Linked DNA regions of Homo sapiens: region 1 is linked to region 2. The links come from fine-mapping of genetic effects on gene expression. A gene starts in region 2. The other region holds a variant in brackets. All regions are shown on one strand. Distances are between the middles of the regions.

Evidence for each region. PIP is the estimated chance that this variant, and not a neighbour inherited with it, causes the effect.
Region 1: its variant is fine-mapped to the expression of MOSPD2 in whole blood (TOPMed, PIP 0.97).

Annotation. Positions count from the first base shown.
Region 1 is chrX:14,816,726-14,819,225 of GRCh38, reverse strand. It overlaps a transcript of FANCB not described here. Among named protein-coding and RNA genes, the nearest start is that of FANCB, 55 kb to the left of the region's middle. The variant G/A (reference allele first, on the strand shown) is at 1,398.
Region 2 is chrX:14,871,832-14,874,837 of GRCh38, reverse strand. MOSPD2 (motile sperm domain containing 2) reads right to left here and starts at 1,417. Exons shown (of 15, transcript NM_152581.4): 1 at 1,301-1,417; 2 at 1,080-1,149. The coding sequence starts at 1,309. FANCB (FA complementation group B) reads left to right here and starts at 1,769. Exons shown (of 10, transcript NM_001018113.3): 1 at 1,769-1,852. RefSeq lists a silencer at 1,450-1,679.

The DNA of each region.
Region 1 (2,500 bases), 55 kb after region 2:
CAAGGGCCTTATGTCATGGGACAACCCTGCTCCACCCCTAGAACCCATCTTCTAGACCTGAGCTGCCTAATGCATAACCACTAGCCACCTGTATGACTCAACTCTTGAAATTTGTCCAGGGGGGCTGGGGAACTGAACTTTGAATTACTATTAGTTAATTGGCATTTAAATTTAAAAAACTGAAGCAGTTTTGTCGGTGTGGATTTGAATATTAATGGAAGATGATTTTTTGATATTTGATGCAATTATTGGAAAACTTTTAAGTGTGTTTGGAACAACTTGAGTATGTGAATTCACTTTTTCAGTTGCAAATTTTACCATATCTAAGTTCAGATCAAGTGCTTCTGTTGAAAATTTAGTACCCAAATTGAGATATGCTTAAGTGTGACATGCACATTATATTTCAAAGACTTCGTACGAGTAAAATAATGTAAAACGTCTCCATAATTTTTGAATATCAATTGCATATTGAAATAATAGCATTTTGGATATACTGAATTAGTTAAAATATTAAAGTAAATGTCAACTGTTGCTTTTTGCTTTTTTAATGGGTTTATTAGAAAACTTTATATGTGTGGCATGCGTTATATTTCTACCAGATAGTGCCCTTCTAGAGCAGTTTGGACCATTTTCCTTATTCTCTCATCCCTTCAACTTAGATTTTCCAGGGAAGCCTCAATTTTTAATATTTTCTATAACATCCCCCCCAATCTTCATAAGTAACTCATGCTTATTAAATTGTTTGTTTGAATGAATGTTTTGGAACATGATCCAGGCTTCCACCCAACCCCCCGCCAGTGTTTTCTAATGTTCTTCACATCTAGAGTCTCTCTCTTTTTTTTTTTTTTTTAATAAGGCCTACATATGCTTCTGGGTCCAACTCAGATATGCTTCTGGGTCCAGCCCAAGAGATCTGCCCCACCCCACCCCGTACCTTCTTTGACGAGCAGTCATGGGTTGCCATTTCCTATCCCTCCATTCCCAGGGCACCACTCTCCCTACTGCTTTCCATAGCTCTGACTTCTTACATGTAAATCTTACCCTCCCTTCTAAAAATTCACCTGAGTCAAGCATTATGCTTTCTCACTCCTTTGACACCCACCCATCAGATCTAATTTTTTTGAGCAATACAAAGGCTCAATGAGGACCGGTTTATTAATAGCTCAGTGAGGGAAATTCCAAATATTTGAAGTCTATCCCTGTTGAGTTGCCAAATATTAAATTTGGTACTCGTAATAAATTTAAAATATATATTTATGTTTGTGCAGATGTGCAGCAGTGGAAAAAGCAGTTGCTGTGGAGTTGGCAAACTAAGGCCTTTATTCCATTTCTGTCTCTCTGGTGCCTGACCTTGGGCAAGTGCACTTCATCTTTCCGGAACTGACTTTCTTCATCTA[G/A]AAAACAATTAGATTAGGTAATCCCTAAAGTGCATTGCAAATCACATATTTTACAAGTCTGTGATGGAAATCTTTTTCAAATGCCTTATACACTACCCTGAATTTTTTTTAAATGGAACATGCTGAACAGAAATTAGCATTTTTTTCAAAATGTCAGAGTCATTATTAGGAATGTCAGTTATTATGCGCTGACAATGTAATGCAGCTAGGGGGTTATTGTGGTGTTTATGGCTGCTTACTCTCCAGAGCATGTAGTTTTTATTTTTAAATTAATGTCTGCCCTTTAATTTACTCTTTTAATGTCAGACCTGTTACTTCTTACTACTGACATCTTGACACCAGTTCTGATTGTATTAACACCTTCCCTATCCCTATCCTACCTAATTTGGGACTTCTTTGGTGATGTGGAGAAGCCTGATAATGATAATCTTGTTTGCCTTATGTCTGAAATTGGTCATTTCGTTTCTCAGCAATCATTTATTGGGTGTCTATACCTGTATGCGAGGCACAAGAGGATGTAGGGGCAGAGGAGGAAATAATTTATAAACCATCTTAATAACCTTGGGGGGCTTTATGGTGAGAAATGTATCTGACCTTTAGTGCAGGGCTTCTACATGCCTTTTTCTTCACTTCTCAGTTTCCAGCCTCTTTCCAAATGGCCGAGTTTCTCAGACAAGTCACCTGTGGATAATAGAGGGCTAATAATAATAATGGTTAATAAAAACAGTGGGGAATTCTCACAGAAATATGCAGAGACACAAATAGAAGAGAACGGAAAGTTCAGAAATAGACTCCCTGTGTCTATATAGGAACTGGGCATATAATAGGATGTTTCCCAAAACAGAGAGAAAATAGTAGGTAGTGTCTCATTTAATTCTTACAATAAGCTTGTGAGCTAGGTAACATTATTCTCCTTTTATAGATAAGGTAAAGAGTGGTTCAGAAACTTGCCCAAAGTCACAGGGGAAATAAGTGGTAGATCTAGGAGAAGGTGTTTCTTTCATCTTTGGTCTACTCCACCTCTATATGGGCCAGTTGATGTTTTAGATCATCTTCATCCTTTTAGATGATTTACTGGTCAAAGGAAACTTAGAAAAGTGGTT
Region 2 (3,006 bases):
CTGGAACAAAGTTTGGGGTGTGAAGAAAATTGGCAAGGAGGTATGAAAAGATTTACTGACAAGTATTTGAAACCGATTTCCATATTTGTTCTATGTCATCAACTGATGTATAATCTAGGATGGTTTAAAGTTGCAGGGAACCTCTGCTGAGTACTAGTCAAGATGTAGAAGCTTAACTCCTTTCACAGTAACCAAAATGACAACTGAGGCAAAATATTCACTGAGAATCCACTATATTTTAAGACATGCTAGATGGTTTATGTTTTTTTAAAAAATTTAATCCTACTAACTTTATTATTTGCACTTCACAGATATGAAAACGGGCTCAGAATAGACAAGTAAGCTATGTAGTGGCAGGGTTAGGATTACAATCAATCTTAAGGTAGGCAACATATAAATCCTTATTTAATTCCATATTTACAATAAGTTATTCCGTATGTTTTACAAAATTACTGTACAAGCATTAAATATTCAGTTAAGTACCTGACAACTCAAGTATCTGTGACATCTGGACACAGAATGTTCAACCAATAAATCAATTCTGGACTCATAGGTACTTTGCAAGATACAGTTTGGGATAAGAACTTGTTCCAGCATTGGAGGGCCTATTTTGTGGGTAGCATGCTGGGTTGTATGAAAGCCAAATCAAACAAAATATCCAAGGAATTTGTATACCCAATTAAGTACACATCAATAGTATTATGGCAGTTTCCAGGTACATTTTCGCTAGTGTTGCTGGTGAAAGGCCAGCAGTGGAACCGTGGACTGGACAATGTCACCCGTGTTGTGGGCCTAACAAGTATCCTGCAAGTTCCATAAACACGAGGGCATGCTAAAAACTTAACCGATTTCCAACTTACATTAACCCTTTAAAGGGAGCATGGGACACACCACTTGACCATTTGAAGCAGTGCACACGGCTTGTCATGGAGAGGAAAACCTTTGAGACGTGCCCAGCATCATTCCTGTGAGGGTCGAAAGGGTCCCTAACACCTCCCACAAATACACTCACAAACACTCCAGCAAAGTTGGGGATGCTCACTGCACACCTTTCTTAATACCTGGAACAGAGTACCCACCTGTCACATACTCAGCTTCGAACCTCCTCCGGGTCTCAGAGATGAGCTTGGCTTTATTCTGGGCGTGATTCTGGATGGGAGACACGATGGGACCTTAGATACTACTTGCATCAACCCGCTTACCCTCAACCCAGCCCACCTGCACACGGGCGCTCGGTCCCCGGGCCTCAGAGGCGGCTTCCGGGTCCGGGGGGCCAGCGGCGGTGCAATAGGCTCCTCACCTCTGCCATGATCACCGTCGTGGATGTGATTGCGGTTGTCGCCGTCGCCCGTTCTACCGTCGCCGACCGAGTATCTCATCACCCGGCAGTCCCGCCCAGAGGTAGACAGAGAAGGGTGGGAGGGGGAGGCGGTCGCGTGACACCGGAAGGCGGACAGAAGCGCCGCCGCACCGCCCAATCCAATGCGGACGCCTGGGTCTGGAGGCGGGACCAGGCCCTCAGCCTAGGTCCCATTCGATTCTCGTCTGGCCTCGCCCCGCGACATCCCCCGCACTGCGGTCCCGCCCCCGCCAGCCGCGAGATCGCCGGCGCTTCCCCCGCGGAGCTCCGCCCTAGAGAGCTCGCGGGCTCTCTGCTTTCACAACACTCCCCAGGGCCCCGCCTCCTCAGCCTCCCTTGGCCACCTCTCCTGGCTGGCTTCTAGGCTCCGCCTCCTCTGCGTTCGACGCAGCCTCCGCCCGGCCTCCCAGGATGCAGCGCGCTGGCGGGAGGTTTGGAGCAGATGGATACCGTATCGACGTGGGGCCTCCGGTATGTTGCCGCTGCGTTGAGGTAGGATGGGGCTGGCGAGTCTTCCCTTCCCAGGACTTCGCAGAGGGGGCGATGGGGCTGGATTTCCTCCCCTTGTCCCCGCATTGCGGGAGAGAGGGAAGGAAGCGGGCATCCCGAGACCTGGGTCTGTCATTCCTTGCAATGATAATTGGATTTTAAGTGCTACATTCGCTTGAAGTTTTTTTCATCCCTTCAGTATCCTTCCAACTTGGAGTGTGAGATGCTTAATGAGCAAAATATCTCTGAAATCTTTAATCTCAAATAATTATATAAAGTTAAAAAAAGCGTGTTTCGGCTTATTAAGGTAGTTGTGTTCAGCCGGGGGGGTGGGGGGGTGTGTGTGGGGGGGGCGGTTTTACCACCCAGGGGACCTTTGGCAACCTCTGGAGACATTTTTAGTCACCACTGCTAGGGGCCGGGGGCAAAAGAGATGCTCACTGGCTACTAGTGGATAGAGACCAGGGAAGCTGCCAAACATCCTCCAGTGTACATGAAAATTCACAACAGTTATCCAGCCCAAAATGTCAATAGTGTCAAGGTTGAGAAAGATTTAGATTTAAAGGGACTGGAACAAATTTTATTCGTCAGTTAAAAACAATTGAAAGAAAATAGTTGCGCATACAATATTGCCTTTTTTAAAGTTGAAAGATACTGAAAACTACAAACAAGTTGTAAGAATAGTCCCCCATATTTCCATCAACCGTAGTCATCCATGACAGAATGGCATGTTAGCATCTTTTGTCCTAGACTTTTAAATATATTTACATTTTTTATGGGAAAAAATGAACACATTGTTTAAACGTTGTTTGACTACATCCTTAAAAGATATTTCAGATATAACTAAAGTCTCCTTCTACCTCTACTCACCTATCCTGGACACTTCCTTGTCCAGAATCAACAGCATTCAGAATTTGGCATGAAATGTTTACAGTTTTACATTTTTTTATTTTGGATCATACTGCCTGGGTTTGAATCCTGGCTCTGTCACTTCTTATCTGCAAGCCTTTGAGAAGATCCTGAAACTCCTTGCCTCAGTTTCTCCATCTATAAAATGGGATAGTAACAGTGCCTATGTCATAAGGATGTTGTGAGGAAGAAACGAGTTAATCCAAAGTGCTTAGAGCAGTACCTGGCACTGTTTCTTCAGGAAAAAA